Linked DNA regions of Homo sapiens: all the other regions are linked to region 1. A link means that fine-mapping ties the variant in region 1 to the plasma level of a protein whose gene starts in the linked region. Region 1 holds a variant in brackets. A gene starts in each other region. All regions are shown on their forward strands.

The links. PIP is the posterior inclusion probability: the model's chance that the variant is causal. The UK Biobank Pharma Proteomics Project read protein levels with antibody pairs (Olink). The fine-mapping took linkage between variants from a reference panel, not from the people measured, so its PIPs are less certain.
Region 2: it holds the start of ANXA1, and the variant in region 1 is fine-mapped to the plasma level of the ANXA1 protein (UK Biobank, PIP above 0.99).
Region 3: ATF2 starts here. The variant in region 1 is fine-mapped to the plasma level of the ATF2 protein (UK Biobank, PIP above 0.99).

Annotation. Positions count from the first base shown.
Region 1 is chr14:106,011,740-106,020,028 of GRCh38, forward strand. It overlaps IGH and IGHV4-4. Among named protein-coding and RNA genes, the nearest start is that of FAM30A, 98 kb to the left of the region's middle. The variant AC/A (reference allele first, on the strand shown) is at 4,685.
Region 2 is chr9:73,150,502-73,157,499 of GRCh38, forward strand. ANXA1 (annexin A1) reads left to right here and starts at 1,364. Exons shown (of 13, transcript NM_000700.3): 1 at 1,364-1,423. RefSeq lists a silencer at 3,352-3,646.
Region 3 is chr2:175,163,210-175,171,498 of GRCh38, forward strand. It overlaps ATF2 (activating transcription factor 2), which reads right to left and starts at 4,994. Exons shown (of 14, transcript NM_001880.4): 1 at 4,841-4,994. It overlaps MIR933 (microRNA 933), which reads right to left and starts at 4,500; the gene lies at 4,424-4,500. RefSeq lists a silencer at 4,943-5,012.

The DNA of each region.
Region 1 (8,289 bases):
AGGAGGGAGAGCACTGAGCTGATGAGGAAGCCCCGCCCTCCCTGCACCTGCTCCAGACCCGGCCTCTTGCTCTGTGGGCCCCGCGCGCCCCCTGCTGGCTCTGAGCAGCACCTGCGCCGGTCCCCTCCGCCTCCCTGCAGGGAGGTTTGTGTCTGGGCTCACACTCACCTCCCCTCACTGTGTCTCTCGCACAGTAATACACGGCCGTGTCCGCGGCGGTCACAGAGCTCAGCTTCAGGGAGAACTGGTTCTTGGACTTGTCTACTGATATGGTGACTCGACTCTTGAGGGACGGGTTGTAGTTGGTGCTCCCACTATGATAGATTTCCCCAATCCACTCCAGCCCCTTCCCTGGGGGCTGGCGGACCCAACTCCACCAGTTACTACTGCTGATGGAGCCACCAGAGACAGCGCAGGTGAGGGACAGGGTCCCCGAAGGCTTCACCAGTCCTGGGCCCGACTCCTGCAGCTGCACCTGAGACAGGACCCCTGTGAACAGAGAGACCCACAGTGAGCCCTGGGATCAGAGGCACCTCCCATACCCCCATGTCTGCAGCCTTGAGACACTCACATCTGGGAGCTGCCACCAGGAGGAGGAAGAACCACAGGTGTTTCATGTTCTTGTGCAGGAGGTCCATGACTCTCAGAAAGTATTTCCCATGTGAGCTGGACCCTGAATTTAAGGAAATGTGTGGTGGTTTCCTGTGGGTGCCTAAGTGAGGATTTGCATGTAGGTGGTGCCTTTGTATAAAGAGGTGAAAAGGGATGAGGGAGGCCCCAGTCTTTTAGGCTCGCCCTGGGATGAGGATGCTTGCTTTGCCCTTTGAGAACTCAGTTCTCTTCCTGGGGCCTCAACTAGCCATGCCCTGGCTCCTCTTTTCCCAGGTGAGGAAGTAGATTGGAACAGCAGCTTAACGTAATAATCATGTGAGTTCAGACACACCAGGATTCACTTAATGTATAGTTCGGGACCTCCATCATGTTTAGAGGGAATCTCTCTGTTCTAGGGAGTGGGCCATTTTTTTAAAATTTTTAAATTAAAATAAATTTTTTAGATGAACTTTTGCTCCTTTGCCCAGGCTAGAGTGCAGTGTCCCGATCTCGGCTCACCGCAACCTCCGCCTCCTGGGTTCAAGTGATTCTCCTGCCTCAGCCTCCCGAGTAGCTGGGAGTACAGGCACGCACAACCACCCCCGTCTAATTTTTATATTTTTAGTAGAGATAAGGTTTCACCATGTTGGCCAAGCTAGTCTCAATGTCCCGACCTCAGGTGATCCACTTGCCTTAGCCTCCCAAAATGCTGGGATTACAGGCCTGAGCCACCATTTTAACTAAGGCACTGGGAGCTGCCCTCTGAGACCTTTTGAGTCCTGGAATTCTTTCTGAGACCTTAGGAAAAACTCGTGGGACATATCTTCATCATTCTCAATGTGTGACCCTGAGGATGTGTCCTGACCTCTGTACACTTCTGTGTGAAAGAGTAGATTGTGAATTGCAGTGAAAATTTCATATGTAAACTCTATAATAGGTCAGCACTGGAGGATATTCTCATTACCAAGATTACTGCAGTTACCTTTCCTGGAAACCAGAGAGGAATTCTGTGAGCCCTCACCTCTGAGTGCACAAGGAACCCTGGTCCTGTCTGACAGGTCTCACATGTGACATGGGGGAAAACAGATACATTCAAGTCCAGTGTTTTCACCCATATATTGACCAATCTAGCCTGATCTATCTGTCTCTGAAAAGCCTTTTCCTTCATTGAATGCATGAACATACCCTTGGGTATGGGGTATTGCAATGTGGGTATTTGGTATTTGTTTAGTGAATTATGTAATTAATAGGCTACCTCCATGAATGTGTGTAACAGTAGAGTTATCAGAAGTTGGATGAGTCATATTATCAGGACAAACCTGGACTCTCTTCTTGGGACCTGGACAAGTGGCCAATCTTCTGTGGTAAAGCAAAGGGGAAGAGACAGATCCAACATCCAGAAGCAGGGTAGCTCCTCACTTACCAGCTGGTGTCTGAGACTTTTGTTAGAATAGATGAAAAACGACCTACCTTCACCTTCAGGGAAATGATGAACTTCGTATGAAATTGAGGTTAATTTTCACTTACAGAGAAGAAAATGTCATAGCCATGTATATATCTATGTGGGTGTGTACGGGTTTCCAGGATGTGTTCATACACAGAAAGGAAGCAGCTATATTTGCTGGGAAGAGAACCGAAGAGCTTCTGAATTTGTAGGTGTTGTTAACCACAAATGTGTCATGTTACTACATCGTGTCATAGTGCTGGTGGTAAAACCTCCCAAAATTGTCATGGAGACAAATGCAAAGAAATAAAGATTCAAATCAGATGCCTTTGGTCTGTAATGAACAGACCAAGAAATCAACCATTATGGAAAGAGTGATAGTTAAATGTAGTAGTAAATTCCACGCTGAGGTGAGAGGGAAGTTCCATCTGACAGCTCACTTTCACCTCTGGGAAGACTTCAGAGCACAGACTAAGAGCAGAGAGTGAACTTAGGGCAAGTGCGGTCAGATGTTTGAGGAGGATGGAGAGAGAGCTGGAATCCTTGTGAGCCATTCGGAGAAGCAGCAGTGTGCCAGGGTGTATTGAGTCCTCCTGAGTTAACAGGTGCTGAACAGATACCAGTTTCACTGCCCTCATTTTGATTTATCCTCAAGAGTCTATTGGATTTCTAGATTTGAACACTGGAAAAGTTGATGAAACTCAACATGACTAGGAATATTTCCGGGAAGATTTATGTAATGATGTGAGCGTATTTAAAATTAGGTTATGAAAATTTCATTATCTAAAATGTTGGTATCAGTATCTATTGATTTGTTCTATTTTTCTTAGAGACAGGGTCTTGCTCTGTCTCTCAGGCTGGAATGCAGTGTCATCTATGAATTTTATAGTATTAAAAATGATCGGCCGGGCGCGGTGGCTCACGCCTGTAATCCCAGCACTTTGGGAGGCCGAGGCGGGCGGATCACGAGGTCAGGAGATCGAGACCATCCCGGCTAAAACGGCGAAACCCCGTCTCTACTAAAAATACAAAAAATTAGCCGGGCGTAGTGGCGGGAGCCTGTAGTCCCAGCTACTTGGGAGGCTGAGGCAGGAGAATGGCGTGAACCCGGGAGGCGGAGCTTGCAGTGAGCCGAGATCCCGCCACTGCACTCCAGCCTGGACGACAGAGCGAGACTCCGTCTCAAAAAAAAAAAAAAAAAAAAAAAAATGATCACCCTGATTAATGTTACCGTATTATCCCCTTGAGGGATTTTGCTCCATGTGTGCCTGTGACATAGTTCTAGTCACAGATGCAGGAGAAGTGGTCTGTTGAGGCAATTCTTCCTCCTCAGAGGAGAATATAAACTATCATCTCCTCACCTTGCTTATTCCATTTTCAGAATTGCACACGACCTTTGGGAATGCTGTCGCCATGTCTTACACGGTGGGAGTCGACTGTGGCATGAAGCTGGACTGGAGATGTGCAATTTTAGGAAAATACAGAACCTGGGCACACAAAGTTTTGAACTAATTGGGCCTGGAGCCACTCACATCCTGGCATCTTGTTGAATTGTTTGTCATTTTAAATTCTGGTTATTTAGTTCAAGTTTCCTTGATTCTCTTTCTGCTAAAATAGTCATTCATAATCATCTAAATAAATTAAATTGGAAAAAAATTACTAATTTGAAAATTAACCTCGTTTCTGCTGAGGTCAAAATTAGTTTGAGGTGCACAGAGTGATGGGCATGGACATAGCAGATTACCAAGATTTCACTCACAGCCTAGGTAATCACTACATTTTATCTAAATTAGGAAACACTTCTGTACATTCCTTATATTTATTAAACTCCTGTTGAGAAACTTCAACTGTTATATGTTGATGGATCCTGCCCAATAATAAAACTAAATGTTTTTAAACACGAATTCCTATTACAATGTTAGCTTTACTTTAGGACACATTTCTTCACCTCATTTCAAATTGGCCCAGATGCACTGATTAGAGCGTGTCAGTTAAGAAACGACCAGGAAATGAGATCACGTTTCTGGAGCAGGACATGGCTTTGGGATGCTTTGCAAACGAAGTGGTTTCTCATGTCTTCTTGAAAATCCATTGAAATGGGCAAGTTAAGGACCTCTTAGAAGCACTCTTCCATCCCATATACTTGACTAATAAAAAGGTGGAAGTCAGTGCGGAAAAATAGATAACATGAAAGCTAAAGTAAGATTTGTACCAGTTCATTGCGCCAAACATGTAATCTTAACCTAGAGTAGGATCTTATCTGAACCCTCAGGAGGTAAATTTCCTGAGAGATTCAAAGATGTCTTTATAAAATAACAACACTTAGCCCCCGATTTTATGTTAAAATAATGGAAAACTCCTGGTAATCTACTTCACTCAGTGTAAATCAGTTAAAAACAAAATTCTGGAAAACCTGTGAAGGTGGGACTTGCCGAGGAACTGAGCCTTGGGGGCCTTTGGACACTTTTAGTTGGATTTTCTTCAGCTTTGACTCTCCATGGAATTTGAACAAGTTTCGTTTACTGTCTGCTGTTTTTCTGAATGACTTGAAGTAATTACTTGACAAAAGCCTACAACCTTCTCAGTTGATAGACATATTTTATGTTTTCGACCTGTGACATGCCGATGTTTTCATCAGGTAACTGAAGC[AC/A]ACCCACTACAGGAAGCAACTGTTATAAAGTGATTCTGTAAGGTGTTTCCATTACTCAAATGCTAAACTGCTATTACCAGCAACAATATTCTGTAAATGTTGAAAAAAATGGCATTGCTACGTAGAATTAATCACAAATTTTAAAACTTTTTCATATATTATTTATTGTTTAAATTCATAAGCATGGAATGTTTATTTTTCCATTTATTTGTTTTATCTCTGATTTTTTTCACATGTGTTTTGCTGTTTTTCTAGTAGAGATATTTCATCTCATTGGCTTAACTCTATTCCTAGGTATTCCACTGTCTTGATGGCTATTGGGAGAGCATGTTCTTGATTCCACTCTCAGCCAGAACGTTGTTGGTGACTAGAAAGGTTACTGTGATTTTCGTACATTGATTTTATATCCTGAAACATTCCTAAACGAATGTATCAATACTAGGAGACTTTTGGCAGAGCCTTCAATATTTTCTACATATAGAATCATATTATCAGTGAAAACAGAGGGTTTGCATTCTTCTTTTTCTTTTATTTGGATGCCTTTTATTTCTTTCTCTTGCCTGATCTGGTGAATACTTCCAGTACTAGGCTGAATAGAAGTGGTGAGAGCGGGCATCCTTGTCTTGTTTCTGTTCTTAAGGAAAATGCTTCCAGTGTTTGCCCATTCAGTATGATGTTGGCCATGGGTTTGTCATAGACGGCTCATCAGATTGAGGTGTGCTCCTTCAATGTCTATAATTTTGAGGATTTTTATCATGAAGCGTTGTTAGATTCTATTGAAAGCTTTTTTCCTGCATCTGCTGGAATACTCACATGGTTTTTGCTTTTGATTCTGTTTAGTAGAGCATCACATTTATTGCTTTGCACAGGTTAAAGCACTTGTACAGTGCTGGATGGAATGTGAATTAGTCCAAGCACTGTGGAAAGCAGTTAAAGCAGCCTTGCATTTGCAGAATGAAGCCTACTTGATTGCAGTGTGTTAACTTTTTGATAAACTACTGGATTTGATTTCCTACGTTGAGAATTTTTAAGCCTATGATCATGAGAAGTATTTGTCTTGAATTTTCATCTCTTCTCAGGAGCAGACACAGGCACTGATCAGGAACTGGGGACCTGTGAAGGTGAGTAGCTGGTCAGGGTTTCTGAGGATGAGCGTCTGTGATGGGACCTGCCTGTCCCTTCTCTTATGGGATGTCTCTCCTGAGGATCCTGTACTGTCTTATTTGTGCAGGTCCACTCTGTGGGACTTGTCTTTATAAATCTCAAATCTCAGGAACAGGAGAGCTGTGCTCCAAAAGCCCCCATAGAGAAGACACATTCCCATCCTGCTGTGATTGAAACAGCTCCATCCTGGGCATGGGGAGGGCTCATGTGTCCCCCACACTGGGATGAACAGCAGCAGCCGCATGTGAGCTGAGGAGGACTCAAGGATGTTTCCCAGCACTTCCCCCAAGAAGGAAATTTGTGTGATTACCCCATATCCCGGCTGGCCCTGTGACTTGCTTCTTTCAAACTTCTTGGCCTGGAAAGTGCAGGCACCAGCTGTTACTGTCACTCCTGTTGTGACACTGTACACAGCACCAGGGCAGGAGCCTGGGGATGGGGCTGAGGAGAGACACTAGCTAGGTGAATCCATTGAAAACTTGGGGACCTGCTGGGGTTCCTACTCTGAGAAGCACAGATCCTAGAGGGTTTGGAGGAGGAGGAAGTCACCATCAGTGACTCAGGAGCTGCTGCTCTGCAGGTCACCTGATTGGCAGGTAGCAGTGGGCAGGTGAGTGTGCTTCATCCCTACAGGGACACGAGGCTTCGACCTGCCCCTCCTCACCAGGAAGGAAACTGGCTTTGTTCATCCCGGTTTCCCCAGCTGTCTGGTCATCCTCTCTTCCTGACCTCCTGCCCAGGGCCCTCAGGCCTGTGATGCATGGACAAAGTACCTGGAGGTACCAAAGGACCTGGAGGTTCCAGGAGGAAATAAAAACGAGTTTGGGGTCTATGAGCTCTCTCACCCTCACACTAGTTCAGACATGCCCTTTCTGTTTATTTAGTTCAGATTTACATATAACAAACCACACAGCCAGGCTCGTCTAAATTGCCACATGCTTGTTTAAACACATTGGAGCAGCATTAATCCTCACATTGATCTCAGAGAATCTTGGTTCCAGTTCACTGTTTACATTAGCTGAGAGCAGCATCAGGGACACACTGGAGTGGACATTTCTTCCCTAAAAAAGCCTCACTCCCAAATATACTAAAGAGCTGCCATGGAGCCATTGTGTGGTTGGATTTCTTCTTATCAGCCTGTCATGGAGGATATTTTGAATGATGTAGACTTTACACTTAGATGGTAATGACTCCCATTGTTGTTGAAATGGCTGGCAGCCCACAATCCTGTTTCTCCTCTCAACTCACCTGAATGTCTCCAAGAACCCCAGGAACCTCAGGACTCCCTTCATGGATGACTCTGAGGATTGTTAGTCTGCTCAGTGCTACACACAGAAGTAGCTAACAGAGGATTCTCAGTCCGCTGACATGTTGGGCTCATAACATAGGACACACATCCAAGAGTGGCCAATTCATGTCAATGCCAATGGAAATTTAATTGAAGAGGCATTATTTTTAGTGCATTGGAGTGTAAAATCTTCATGATTCATGGCAATAGAGCCACAGACTGAATGCTTTGCAGAAGAAGTGAGCTCATTGTTAGAAGAAAGAGGCCTGCCCCCAAGAAGTCAGTCTCTTTAACTAAAGCACCTGAAATATGGTGTCCTGAGACCTTGTGAAAATTCATTTCCTGGAGTAAAGAAAGGGGAAAGCTATTCTTAAATCATTGGAAGAAACCATATCAGAAATTTTATCAACACAGCAGTCAAATTCCAGTAAGTCAATGCTTGGGTTTATGTTTCACAACTCAGGAAGCAATAAAGAAATCTACATAATCGGAAGGCTACTCCAACAGAGGGAATTTTGACCTATTTAATTAATAGGCCAGTATTCACTCAAAGACACACTCCTGTGAGATCTCCAACTTAAACAGATCTCTGTAACCTGAAGAAGTTTTCTCAACAGATTCTTTTTTCTCTAGACACTCGCAAATGCAAAAATACATTTTGTATATTTGTGTATGAGTGATCTAGAGAAGTCCTTGCCTTGTTAATGAAAGTTCATGGAAATATGATAACTGCATCACTTACTGTGAACTCACACTTCACTTGTCTCAAAAATTTCTCACCCATGTGATGGAGCAATGGGTGCCTGTAAGAATATGCTGATTTTTGGACTCAATGTGTTCTCTTTGCTTGACTTATAGACGCATGTCTGACATCTGAGACACACCCTGGGGAGCTGTCTCCAGACACAATAATGTAATCTTCTTCATGAACACAACTCTGCATTCTCCACATACCTCAGCCACACCTGAGGGGAGAGCTGTTAGCTTCACCGTCCAAAAGCGCTTTATACCCTGGAGTCTGAAAAATAATTTGGATGTGATACCACCTTGTACTTGTAATATAGAGGGCAGAGGTCAGCCTCCCCCTGGACTTGAATGTGTTTTATTGTTGTATGTATTTTCTTGCAGACATGAATTACTTGCTTGACAAAA
Region 2 (6,998 bases), not on the chromosome of region 1:
TAAAATACTGCCAATCTTTAGAAAGTATTTTCATTAACTTCCTAAACTTCATGTTTTTTATGTGAAATATCTATGAGGAAAAGAGGAAAAAGAACAAACCACTAAATGCAGCATAAATTGAGCCATAATGCTGTGAGATTTTACACCTGTGCACTTTAATGGAAACATCATATAATACTTTGTAGGGTTTAAAGAAGAATGAAAATGAACCACTATGGAAGTTACCAGAACCAATTTTCCTCCATTGGGTGGGAAATTTCTTATGGAATGTGTTCTGTAATAGTTGCTGCTCCATTAATCCTTTCATTTTATAGGTCTAGTTCCTTGTTTTGGTGTTCAACTAGTCTACAATGTCAAAGATGTGTATCAAAATGTATATATAACTGATCTATATTACAGTTTATATATATAGTTCTATGTAACTGACTCTATTTAAAAGAATTAATGTAGATAGGCCTTCTGATGTCAATGCTTTTATTGAATGTCATAATGATCAAATTTTTGGCATTACCTTTGTTCAAAATTTTGAGCCAATCTGGAACTTTATTACTTCTATATTTCTTATTTATAACAACAAGCTATATCTAGGAACAAAAGTCGTTTATTTTTTAAGGCAAGAAAAATATAAATAGAAAATTATTCGGCACTGTGTAATGTTAAAATTTACAAATATATGTTATTTCTCCATTGTCACAAGAATTCTAGTGGGTAGACAACTTAGATAATGCTCCTATATACAAAAGTAAAAACAGCTAGGCATGGTGGCTCACGCCTGTGATTCCAACTCTTAGGGAGACAGAGGCAGGAGGATAGCCTGAGCCCAGGAGTTTGAGACCTGCCTGGGCAATATAACGAGACCCCATTCTCCACAAAAAGCGGGGGAAAAAGACAACAAAACAAAAGTAAAAACAGGTTCAGAAAAATTAAGTATGTCCCTAAAGTCACAGAATAATAAGTGATGGAGGTGGAATTCAAATGTAATATTTTGTTTGTTGGTTTGTTTAGTTTTGAAGGTAACATACTTTTTAGTCTACAACCTATTTAACTACAAAAGTGTGCCAATCACTGGTATTAGGATTGGGGCAGATGTATACTCTGAAAATAAAAGTGCAAAATAAATATCCCATCTGGAAATAAAAGTGCAAAATAAAGAGGGAGGAAAAATCAGCCCTTCCATTTCTTTTCCTTTGTAATGCCAGTTGAATTGGTTTAGTGAGTAGTTTTGCAAGACTTGTTTCACTTTGTTTTTGGACATAGCTGAGCCATGTACTTCAAACAGAAGGCAGCCAATTACTAACTTCTGGTTGCTAGGTGTGGCTTCCTTTAAAATCCTATAAAATCAGAAGCCCAAGTCTCCACTGCCAGTGTGAAATCTTCAGAGAAGAATTTCTCTTTAGTTCTTTGCAAGAAGGTAGAGATAAAGGTAAGTCTTGGTTTTCCTTTTAGTTAGTTTTGGTTGTTTTGAAAACTTTTCTCATCACTATGTTAAATGTTACTGCTTCTACAGGATTTATGGTTAGTTGCATTTAACATGATAAGTCATTCATAAATCTTTCTGTAGAATTACATTGGATATTTATATTTTAGGAATCACAAATTACAATATTTTTGTTCTACTTAGTTAACAAATACAAGTAAAAATAAGATAAGTTTGCTTAATACTGGCTCATTGTACTCTTGGTAAGTTACCATGAGAAAGAAGGGAAGAATGTGCTTTCCCTCTGGTAGCCTTAAAAGAATGTGTTTTTCCTTTCCTTCCCCTTGAAATATTTCTTCCCAAGAGCTGTGTGTTTTACAGAGAAATCGTGATGGGGGCTGCTTTTTGGGGGCAAGAACAAAAGTGATAGGAGTGGGCTGCAGGGAACTGTTTCAAAATAGTAGGACTTTCATAATTTATTTTCTTCTTTTGTAAGGAAAACAAGATAGATTCAGACCTCAAAGTGCTAATCATGCTCTTTGTAATAAACATTTAAAAATATATGTTATATTTGCTTATGCTATTTAAAATAAGAAGGTCCGCTTATTACTTTTTTCATTTAAAGAGGGTGTGGCCACATTCCTTTTCTTGTAGGCTCTGTGTCATATACAGTCTTTTCAAGTGCTGGCTGGAAAACCTAAAAAGAAGGGAAATACTTTCTGGGTAGTGTCAGATACATTATCCTAGGGGAATGTCAGTGAGGCCCTCCAACAGCTATTCCACTTGATTGTTGCATGAGCTAATGGCCATAAAACTCCTTAGAAAAGCACAAAGCAAAACTAAAGAAGAGTATTTACTAGTGTTGGATATATTTGTAAAAGTGAGATTACAAATCATGTATCTGGCTATTTTTTTCTTAAACATGTTCCTTCAAGAATTTTTCTGTTCGTTCATTTTAAATATTTATTAAATGTTCTGATTTCTTATGTTCACTGCTAGCTAATTAACAAGGATGGAATTTTTCTTGCCTTGGTTATATCTAAAAGATTGTAAAAACTTTGAGAAAGCAATGTTGCCCTCTTTCCACAGGAGTATTTTGGTAGCTGTAAGAGAATGCACATTGCAAATGACTCAAATGTGGTAAAATGTTGGTTTCATAATTCTGAAATGGCCTCTTCCCCAAAAGTGACAGTAACACCCTAGCTCCAGGCTCAACCACATCCAGCACATAGCCAACATTTAACAGATGTTGACAAAATAGTTAATAATAATATTATTAAGGAACCAGCCAGAGTTTCATGCTTATTAAATACTTTTTCAACCAGAAGGTCTGCAAAGGTTGATTTCTGAATATGACGTTAGCTCTCTCTAGACCTATTAATTTACGACATTTCAAATCAGAGGTAAACCAGCAGACCTATTATTTTTCAATGATAAACTATAAACAGTTTTTTGAAGTCAACTATTTCCTTTTCCTTTAAAATTGGACAGAATTTCATCAGGAAGCTCAGAACAATCCAATTTATATAATGCCTTCCTTCATTATGCTAATTTTCTTCATCTTCATCTACTTGAAGTAATATTTAAGATTGGCACTTCAGAGCTGTAAATGGATCTTAGATGATAATTACTTCAACATTCTTATTTTATAAACGAAGACCCTCTGGAGAAGCTAAATGTTTTTCTTGAGGTCAGATCGCCAGATAATCAAGAACCAGTATACTTCAATTTGTATTTTATATCCTATAGTTGTGGGTAGAAAATGTTCATTAAATTAGTGTAGATATGTTTTTTAAAATATTAGCAATGATACATGATATTCATTCAATAATACTTATTAACATCCTAAATTCCAGGCATTTTGCTAGGGATTGGAAGTACATACATAATGAATATTATTATTTGTATGTTAGCACGGGCCTCATGGCCTGCTCCTGGGGAATATAAACAAGCCAATGGAAAGTGATAATACAGAAAGGTGGGGCTGGTGTAGGGGTGAAGTCAGGATGCTTTGGGAGAGCATGGAAGGTCACCGAATCCAGTGCTGAGGAACTAATGAAGGGTTTCTGAAGAACGTGATGAGATCAATGCTGATGAGTCACTTAGAAGTAGCAATTAGTTAGGCAAAGGGAAGTGAATGTGGAGGAGGAACAAGCATTCCAGGCAAGAAGAACACCCTATCGAAAAGCCTGGAAGCAAAACATTAGTGAGGCTACCTTTCATAAATTGCTTTCTGTAAGTCATGCCATTGTGTAGTCTTAATTGCTTTCTCTCACCAGGGAAGGTGTGGGAAGGACTTGTGAAATACATATTCGAGGAAAAACTATGCACAAGGCCGTGCATTTAAAAATAAACTCCCTAAGGCTGGGGTGAAACCTGCTACGGTCTGCGCAAGTTGACTGTTAATGAATTTGATTCTCAGGTGTGAGTGATTAAAAGAACACTGATCATGTCATTTTCTTTTTGGTCACTAATTCCCTCCCTCCCTTCTCTTTCTTTTCTTTTTTCTTTTCTTTTCTTTTTCTTTCTTTCTTCCCGACAGAGTCTTGTTATGTCGCCCAGGATGGAGTGTAGTGGTACAATCTCGGCTCACTGCAGCCTCCGCCTCTTCCTGGGTTCAAGTGATTCTCCTGCCTCAGCCTTCTGAGTAGATGGGACTACAGGTGCACACCACCATGCCTGGCTGATTTTTGTACTTTTGGTAGAGACGGGGTTTCGCCATGCTGGCCAGGCTGGTCTTGAACTCCTGGCCTCAAGTAATCTGCCCACCTTGGCCTCCTAAATTGCTGGGATTGCAGGTGTGAGCCACCATGCACAGCCAAAATATATAACACTTTGGAATCAAAAGGGATGGATTTATGTCTCCATTCTTGCCACTACTAGCAGGAAGACTGCTTGAAAATAGCACTCAGTTTTCCCAGATAGAAACTGAGGATAATGATTAAAGGCTATTATTCCAAGCAAGGGTTAGTCATTGCTGTTACTATCATTGCAAAACTCTGATAGTTCTAGATTGTAACCAGGAAGATACAATCAACCACAAAACTCAGCTTCCTCTGTCACAAATTCTAGATAGAGGTAGCCTTTCATGAGGCTGAGAGATGGAAAAATGAAGCGGGGGGACTCTCTTAGGACACATAAATATGCAAAAAAATTGCTACGCTTTAGAAAGCTATACATTCAAATCATAGATAAGCTGACATTAGTAGGCAGTGCATGTTCACAAAAAGACCATTAATTAGAAGAAATGTGAAATATTGTTAATTTCCTTATAGATTTGCCTATGTATAAATGGCCAATTTCACCGTCAATGAGCTCATGCTAAGTACTGAAATAAACTTAGTTTTAGAGCTTATCTTTGGTTAGTTGAAATCTGTATTGAGTTAGTTGAAATCTATAAGTTGATAGAACAGGCTCTTTAAAATCTATTGCAAGCTTTATACACTACAAACAAAAAGATAGAAAAAAGAAAACCTTTCATGAACTCATTGGCTTAGGCAGGTTTTCATGCAGAGTGTAGGTATTGAAGAGTCAGAACGGCTTAAGGATAGAATTTGGCCAATATATAAAAAAATATATATTTGGTATTTGTTAGTTGTATTATAATTATTCAGAAGTTCAGTTAATACGTGCAGTTGGCTTTGAGCCCTTAACCAGCTGTATGTGATAAAATCTGTTTCCTTTAGAGCAATTTCTTATATCCTGCCTTGATGCTCCTGTCTTTAATCTTTGCTAAGAGCTGGTGGTGAATTTGGCTGAATTCAGATTCCGTTTTTCTCTAATTGATTTCTTGAAGAAAATTCTCTATTGGTTGCTTTTCTTTCCTAGATTATGCTTTTAGTCTATCCAAATACTTCAGGCTAGAATGTAGGAACTTAGAAGATACAAATCACAAAGCTGTCTCCTCTAGGGATGCTCTCTCTTTCAAATAAGTGACTTAAACAACTTATTTTTGTTATCTTGTGTTATGTAATTAATATACCTTTTCCTGGGCTTTCTCTGGCTTTTTTTTTAAATGGACATTATTCAAGTATTTTTTAGAAGTAAAAAAAAAACAGTACAGTAAAGTTTTTATAACGTTTATTTTGAAGTTGTCAGAGACACCTTTAATATTAGACTGGACAATATCTTTAGTCTTTCTTTTGCTTTCTTTTGAAGTTTTTATTTGCTAATTGAAAAGAATGGAATAATAATAATAATAATAATAAATAAATAATAATAATAAATAATATAAATAAATAAATAAATAAATAAAATAAATAAATAATAAAAACATGTTTTTATAAGTGATGGAGTAGTACTTTGCCAAGTGATGAATTTTAACACTCATTTTGATGATTCTTCCTTATCAAAGCCTTGGATGAAATGATGAAAATGGAAATTTTGAGTGCCTGAAGCTGCTAGAATTGCTTTTAAAGTATTGGGTGTGCCAATTAAGAAGGTGGAATATGAAACTCCATGTGGCAACCGCAATTGCATGAAACTAGACTGTAATGGGAACTAAAACCTTGTGCAAAATTGCGGGTTGTTACTTTATCAGGAAGCAATTTTAAGTCTATCAATTATATTTAGGAAACAGGCTGCTTTAAATGAATGGAAAAAGTATTGGTTCTTCTCACAGATGACAGAATAGTAATAAGAGCAATCCCATGCGAATTAAGTGGGGATGATTTCTGCTTTGGATATTATTTTCTTCATGCATTCAGTGTTATTACTTGCAACTCCAGTTACTTTTTAGCAGGTGAAAATGGAAAGAGTTTGTCTGAACATGCTGTTGAGGAATCAGTTTATGGAATCAGTTTATGCCTCATGAGTCATTTATCTTCATATCAAGAATTTAAAACTGCCAAGATTGTCCTCCCAACCTCTCTCACAAACATTCATGAGAGTAGTCTCTAGAGGGGTGAAACAGAATGGTGTAGATAGACAGATCAGTGTAGACCTTGAGCAAGGCCTCTGAAAAACATCCCCAGACTAAAAGGATCTGTGATGGCATTTTGTGTGTGTGTGGCCAAAACAGAGAACACATTAATTTTCAATATACTTAAGATCTTAAAAATATATGTCTCATTAAATAAAAATATTGCCAAGTCATGATAGCAATTCAAGAAATTTCCTTTAAGATAGAGTTTGCCAAAAGAACATGCATGTTACAATTGCACCTCTAGGCTTCCTGCTACAACAAAAAAATCCAGTATAAAATAATTCTTTTCTGGGTTTTTTGTGTTGGGTGGGAAAATATGTAGGACTACTATTTAGACAGCTCAAATAGGAAGAAATGTGAAGATAGCAATTACTTCAATGCTGAGTACTTTTATATCAAGAAATAGAAAAGGAAACTAAATTATTCAGGGAGAAATATCACCTGGATATCTTTTTACAATTAAAATTTTAAATCTGAATTCACTTGTACAGATTGGCACAAGTTATTTTACCTTATAAATGTAATCATTGGCTGGGAGTGGTAGCTCACACCTGTAATTCCAGCACTTTGGGAGGCCGAGGCGGGCAGATCACTTGGGGTCATGAGTTCAAAATCAGCCTAGCCAACATGGTGAAAACCTGTCTCTACTAAAAATAC
Region 3 (8,289 bases), not on the chromosome of region 1:
GTAAAATTAGAAAAACCAAAGCTATAACATTGGAGCAAAGCTAAAAAAATTAGAATGACAAAGGTTTCGGTTCTGCTAGCAAACTAAAGAATATTTAGGGAATATATTTATAAACTTATGGTCAATATTATAGATAAAAATACTATATATTACAAAAATAACCAAAGTCCATATGGTATTTTGCCAATTACAATTATTTCTCCCTGTCTTTCCCTACCAGTCTTGTTGAGAATCTCTGTGGTAATAAGCCACTACTACTGTTGGAAGTATTTTGTATTCCTTGGGTAGAAAGGCAAAAAAGTGGCTGAGAACCACTATCTTTGTTAAGATACAGAATGCAAATATGGGTGAATAGGCAAAGCCCCCAAAACATTGTTTACATCTCTTCTTTACTGTCAATGTCAAAATGCCAAGGAAAAAAAATCAATAAACATACTTAAAAAATGAAAAATGATGCTGGGTGGTGGCTCATGCCTGTAATTCCAACACTTTGGGAGGCCGAGGCAGGTTCGAGACCAGCCTGGCCAACATGGTGAAACCCCGTTTCTATTAAAAATACAAAAATTAGCCAGGTGTGGTGGCGGGCACCTGTAATCCCAGCTACTCAGGAGGCTGAGGCAGGAGAATCACTTGAACCTGGGAGGCAGAGGTTACAATGAGCTGAGAGCGGCACTGCACTCCAGCCTGGGTGACATAGCAACTCCGTCTCAAAAAAAAAAAAAAGAAAAGTGAAAATGAATACACTAGTTTCAAGGTTGCCAACAAGAATAAATTGAAAAGATATATATAATGAATACATATTTATTTATAATTATATAATATGTAACATTAAATACACCTGTAACACAATGTGTAAAAATAGGCCCGGGTGCAGTGGCTCATGCCTGTAATGCCTTAAAAGTGAAAATGAATACACCAGTTTCAAGGTTGTCAAAAAGTCTCAACAAATTGAAAAGACACATATAATGAATACATATTTATTTATATTTATATAATATGTAACATTAAATATATTTATATTATAAAATAATGTGTAAAAATAGGCCTAGTGTAGTGGCTCACGCCTGTAATCCCAACACTTTGAGAGGCCAAGGCGAGTGGATCACTCGAGGCCAGGAAGTCGAGATCAGCCTGGCCAACATGGTGAAACCCCATCTCTACTAAAAATACAAAAATCAGCAGGGAATGGTGGTGCACCCCTGTAATCCTAGTTATTCGGGAGGCTCAGACAGGAGAACCGCTTGAATCCGGGAGGTGGAGATTGCAGTGAGCCAAGACTGCACCACTGCACTCCAGCGTGGAAGCCAGAGGGAGACTCTGTCTCAAAAATAAAATAAGATAAAATACAATTACTGATGGCCTTAAAGATCCACAAATTTCCTTGATTTTCTATGAAACTATCTTATACCTTACTATATAACCTTTTAACCTTGAGAAACATAACAAAGGAAATAAAATGTTCTCTGGGGTTTTCCTTCAAATAGAAATAGGTGAATACTATCCTACTACTTCAACATTAAAACTTACATAAAGAGAACATGCAGCATTTTAGACAAGTTCTTAGCCTTGAGGAACAGGTGTGAGTATGAGATAAACACAGAAATACTAAATTAAACTCCAGATTATAACAATACTAAGTGAATTTTTTGGTTTTTGTTTTGTTTTGAGATGCAGTCTCATTCTGTTGCCCAGGCTAGAGTGCAGTGGCACGATCGGCTCTCACTGCAGCCTCCTGCTCCTAGGTGCTAGCGATTCTCCTGCCTCAGCCTCCCCAGTAGCTGGGATTGCAGGCGCCTACCAACGTGGTTTCACCATGTTGGCCAGGCTGGTCTTGAACTCCTGACCTCAGCTGATCCGCCTGCCTCAGCCTCCCAAAGTGCTGGGATTACAGGCGTGAGCTACCACACCTGGCTAAGGTGGGATTTTTTTTAGGGTACATTTTAATTATACAAAATAACCCAACAGGTGCTATATGCATTGACTTTTATAAAAATCAGTTGAATATTAATTATTGCTATTCACTGAATTTTTAACGAGAGGTTCTGATGAAAATCTGGTTTTCATAAGGGAGACTTCAACTACTTTATATTCTCCAATGACATTTTAGTAAGAATAAAAAAGAGAAAGAAATGCCTACTTATAGGTATATTTCATATTGGAAGGAAGAGCCTTTAGACAAAATTAGTAGAAAAAGCACACATTGGTGAGATTGTTTACCTGATCTAACACGATCTAACAATTTACCAGACAAGAACGTATGTATCATTAAAACCGAAGTTTTCCAAAATACAAAAATTTGGGTAGAAAAAATGTACATTATTTTTTGAAGAGTTAATGCTACTTACAGATAGATGTTTGATGTATGGCATATTTTTCTACCATAGTCATAGAGCTTTCAGATCCTGAATACCAATAAAGACCACCCCAACCCCACTATTTGTTAAAATGCTGACAACCATTTCTACTATTTATTTATTTGAGACGGAGTCTCGCTGTGTCGCCCAGGTTGGAGTGCAGTGGCGCCATCTCGGCTCACTGCAACCTCCGCCTCCCAGGTTCAACAGATTCTCCGCCTCAGCCTCTCGAGTAGGTGGGACTACAGGAGCCAACACACCCAGCTAATTTTTGGTATTTTTAGTAGAGACGGGGTTTCACCGTGTTAGCTAGGATGGTCTCGATCTCCTCACCTCATGATCCGCCCCACTCGGCCTCACGAAGTGCTGGCATTACAGGCATGAGCCACCGCGCACGCCCAGCCTCTACTATTATCTTAGCTTAAAAACAAAAAACGCCAAAGAAAAAAGTGCAGGAATTCCTGGGTTACATATTTAACTAATAAAAATACAGTGCCCCAAATACGAAATAAACATTCGGATAAGATATTTTAAAAAGGATTTTCAGGAAATGCACCCGGAGCTATAGAAGGTATTATGTACACTACACATACAAAAAAAAGTCCCTGAAAGCTCCTTCCTGACAATTAAAATACATAACAACTAAGTTCTAAATTTCCACGATATTACATTTTAAATCAGTTCTTAAAACTTAATGGCAGTAGCATTCTCTCAAAGCAAGATTAAACGTCTTAGGAAGGCAACATACACATCATGGTAAATTTGGAAGATTCTCAGAAACTCTTTTACACATCACGGTAAATTTGGAAGATTCCTAGAAATTATTTTACAAAGACGAGGATTCTTAACTATTACGCAACTACTGATGGCCTTAAAGATCCATGAACTTTCTTAATCTGCAGAGGGGAATCTGTATATTTAAAACGTATTTTACAAGGATGTTCCTAACATTTTTGAAACAAAGTTTTTACGGTGGATTCCTCAAGTAAGGAAAAAAAAATTAATACATGATAAAACTGCTTCTGTGTTTGTACTTTAAGACACTTAAACCTGTAGGTTTGACTTTTTAACAAGCTTTTATAAATAAAGCTTTACCTTCATAATTTTGATTCAAGAGACCAAAGCTATATGGCTATTTAAAGATCAGAACGGCTGTTACTCACAATGATAACGCCAGTGGTCATGTTTCTTCAAATAGGACAAAAAGTGTGCTCAAAGAAAGTCAGTTTTTGTTCTGATTTTAAATGTATATCTTAAATGCATGCATTGTGACCGTCTCCATAATTTAAAACCTCTAAGAAATTTAAACTTTCACATTATAATTTAGGGATTAGTCAATCCCTTAGTACCAGTTAAATAATAGCCAGGAAAGCATTAGAAAACCTGAAGGTACATGTAAAGAAATGCTTTACATCACTATTTAAAATAGGTGTTGAATTTTAAGAGAAACATTTCTTTCACTAAAATTTCTGATGCCTAAGGTCCATCAGGAGTAATCTCTTTTACTCCATGATATTCACAGTAGTTTTGCTCTTGGCCTCACCAGTTTTAAGACTCTCCATTAAAGAAAGCCAATTTTATACTACCTAGGGGCACAAAAATAGTTCCCAGCTCCTCCTCTCTTTTTCCTCCTAGGTTCGGTTAAACGAGCGAACATAGAAAACACGTACACACACTCCCTTTCGGCCCTGGTCCCTAGGGCATTGATGAAAAGCAAATTATTTCTTTACATACGCTCTGCTGTCCACCCAGAGATTTAAAAAAAAAAAAATAAGGGAAAATACCAGAATCAGTCTGCACCCACACCTAAGCCCCGCCCCACCGGGAAAAAGCTGGGGGTAGCGGGATTGTGAGGGTGGCGGAAAGGACGGAAAAGGCCGAGACTTCCAGCTCCTAGGTTCTCCACACCATTCTTTCCTTCAAGCTGCACCGCAGCCAGGGACCCTGATTCTATTTTCAGCCGCGCCTCCCGATCCTCCTCCCCGCCACCATCACCAATACACGGTCCTCAATCGCTTGAATACTGGGTGGGGAGACCAGAGTGGGCCCTCTCCCCGCCCAACCCAAGGACTGTGGGTGGGAGAGGTCTCCCTGCGCACACGGCTGACTCGACGCGCGCCCCGAGGACCTCTGAACTGACCCAAGTAGGGTGAAGATAATTCGGAGGGAGGGGTCTAAGAGGGAGCCGTTATTCCTTTTTCCTCTGCCTTAGGAAAGCGCGCGAGAGGGAGGGGCCGGAACAACGAACGCTGGTTACCTAACGGTCCGGCCCAGCCAGTCAGGTTCCCAAAGCCCACACCGCGCGGGCCGCCGAGGTGGCAGCACAGCCACAATCGCCCCAAGGGCTAAGGAGCACGTCAGGAGCACCCGAGGTGATGGGAAACGGGGGGTGGGGACTGTGCTGAGCGACGTCGCCATGTTAGCGCCTTCTTTCTCCGTATCCCTACAGTCTCCAGCCCTGCTGACCTCTGCCCATCGTTACTCACCTTTCCAGGTCACTAGTTCATGATCCTTTCGGTCACCCGCGAGCCCTGAGCACAGCCGTGTTTACAAAGCACCCCTGGAGGAAAAGGCTGAACGGCACTTTAAAGGCCACGGGCTCCCACAGGCTTCCGTCCTCTCTCGCGAGATCGGACTGACAACCCCCGCCCGCTCGCCCCGCTCCCGGCATCCCCACCTTCCTTCTGGCGCCCCTCCCCTTCACCCACACGCCCCTTCTTGCCTTCCTTCTGAGGGAGCGCCTCCGAGTCAGGTGATTCCGTCAGGCTTAAGGAGAAGAAGGCGGGTCTTCGGCAGGGCGGGTAGAGGGGACGGGCATCAAAGAGCACTCGGGCGCTCATGATTGGACAAGGAGCCCGAAGGGCGGGAAGCAGTTCTGGAGGGGGCGGGACCAGAGGGCCCAAGGAGCGTTACTTCTGTAAACCCGGAGCTGTGGAAGACTGTGATTGGCTGTCGGCTGGAGGAGGGCGCGGGTGCAGGCGGCGGTGAAGGGCTAGGCAGGGCTTTGGCGGTGTGAGGGGAGGAAAGGTGGTGAGCTCCGGAAAGGCTGCTAGAGGGAAAGCAGGATGGGTCCTCCGAGCCCAGCCCCAGGAGCCGGGTGTCTCCGTTTCCGTCACTTCCCAGCACTAGGTAGGGAGGTGGGTAAAAGTAGGCTGCGTTCCTCAGCCCACCCCTTGGCTCCCCGGGAGCCTGAGGCGGGGAGCTTCGGGTTAGGTGAGGTTTGGGGGAGGCGGAGTTTGCTGGTAATTGCCCATCCCTCCCCTCCAAAAAACCCCACACAACTTAAAGATTTTAATATTAACTGTAAGGATGTTGGTTATTCAATAAATAGGCACAAGTTGAAAAGTATGATCAGAGGCCTCTGTGAGAATTTACATTATTCAATAAAAGATTTTCAGTGTCTTATTTTTTCCATTTATTAAATACTGATTTCTAGTCTGGAACAAAATTATGAACTAGTTTATATATTAACATAAAATACACTCTCAAAATTGTTGAAAGGTTTTGGGGGATAGTATGAGAGTTAATGAGCCTGAAGTTCAAGAATGATATCTGGCATAAAAGTGAAATTGTAATGGCATTGACATTTTAACAGGTAGGTCTCTGGACCGCATACATGTGTATAAGCCAACTCAGTCCTCTTTTAAAACTAATTTTAGTTAAGAAACATTAAGCCAAATTATTAACACTTTCCTACTTAAAATGAAAGTACCGTCCCCATATAGTAACAGTAATGTAGTAGTGCCATTGTAGTGTAACACTAATTATGTCAGCAAAACCTCACAGTTCAGATTACTCATGATGGAAATGGTGGACAAAATGTTTGATTGACATCACAATTGTTAGGTCTAGAACGCATTGATTAAATAGATGCTTCTCTCTCCATCTCCCAAAACAACTAATGTGAGAAAAAGAACTGCAAATGTTACGACATTTCAAAAGAAGTTTGGGTCAATTAGAATAGATTTTTTTAAAAAAATTGTTTTTCCATTTGAAATTTTTTCCAGTGTTGATTCAATTGGGCAGTAGCTTTGGTTTTAAATTTCTCATTGCTACTTCTCCAGTCTGTTGTCAAGCAGTTAGTTATCTACATGATGCATTCGAGAAACACATTATTTTAAAGAAAGTCTTTCAGTTCTTTTTAGACAAGAGAAGAACTGTTTAGTGATATGAACAGTACTCTGATCTGTTTTGATAATTCAGTTTTAGCTAATTTTCTAAAGAGAGGGTATACCTAAAGTGAGAAAAAAAAATAAGATAGGCGCAGGAAACAGGTGGAAACTATGCCGATCTGTTATATATGCATTTTGGCAGCCCGGCATTTAACAAAGGGTCTCACTTTATCCACATATTTCTAGTTCCACAGCAGTTTGTTTACTATAGTTTTTCTACAAGTGGGGAAAACATTCAGCATTGTCAAAATGAATGTAGTTACCATATTCAGGTCTGATTCCATGAACTTGTCTCACTACTTATTCATATCCTCATAAAATGCCACCCTTTTCCATCTTTGTTCTCACTTTTGCATTCCTCAATATCCCCAAGAGTCCTAAAATTCTTTACAGTCTTCTCTTTACAAACGCAGGAAACTTCTTGTAGACCTCTTCTTTGCCTGTCTTGTTCCATGATGCATCTACCCAACTTAGTTCTAAGAGAATTAGTGAGGGTCTAGTGAATCTCCTTTAAGAACCCAGCATAACTGCTAAATAAAACTAATATTCCTTAGATACAAAATGAGGCTATTTGAAGAAAATGCATTTCTGTCATGAAAATGTTAATAAATATCACAAGAAACAATGATGGTCTCTAAGTGCCCTCAAAATCTTACAAATGCCACACAATGTGGTATTTCCACCTTAGTATGATAGGGCTGCTAATCCATAATCTGTTAAAACTGCTCACAAAAATTCTAAAACGTGTGTGTGTGTGTGTGTGTATGTATGTATGTATATATATGTGTATATATGTGTGTGTGTGTGTGTGTGTGTGTATATATATATCTGTTCTCACGCTGCTAATAAAGATATACCCGAGACTGGGTAATTTATAAAGGAAAGAGGTTTAATTGATTCACAGTTCAGCATGGCTGGGGAGGCTTCAGGAAACTCACAATCATGGCGGAAGGGGAAGCAAACATGTCCTTCTTCACATGAATGAGTGCCCAGCAAAAGGAGAAGCCCATTATAAAACCATCAGATCTCTGAGAACTAACTCACTATCATGAGAACAGGATGGGGAAACCACCCCAATGATTCAATTATCTCCACCTGGTCCCTCCCATGACATGTGGGGATTATGGGAACTACACTTCAAGATGAGATTTGGGGTGGGGACACAGCCAAACCATATCTCTCTCCATCTTCCCTTTCAACTTCCTCTCCTTCTCTCTCTCACTAATAATTGATTTTCAGAACATAGTTTCTGTTTGTCTGCAGCTAACCAAAACATAGAAGACTACAGGGCACCCCTTATGTCTACTTGGTACAACTAATCCTAGGCTTAGGGAAAGAGCCTCTACATTTTCATGATATTCTCAGGATGCAGCCCAGTACAGTGGATTAGCTGGGATTTTATCAGTGGGATCAAGGTAGGGGTGTGTGTGGTGTGTGTGTGTGTGTGTGAGATGTGAAAGGGGTGGGAGACGCAGGACATGATTACCCCACTGATATCTGAGAAATGAAATAGGATAATGTGGCCCTAGACGTTGTACAGACATTTTGGTAGCTTCTATCTCATGGCAGATCTTTTCCTCTCTCTGCCAGCTCAGGGTCTTCCTGCACATTGCTGAAATGGCCTATGTTAAAGTTACCTCTCAGCACTTGTCCTCATCATGGACATTTTAAGTGCAGGGATGTCTACCCTCCAACCCAAATCTTGGGTTTCCCAAAAGAATTTATAATTAATGGGGTGTGGCATTATGGGGAAAAAGGGCTAT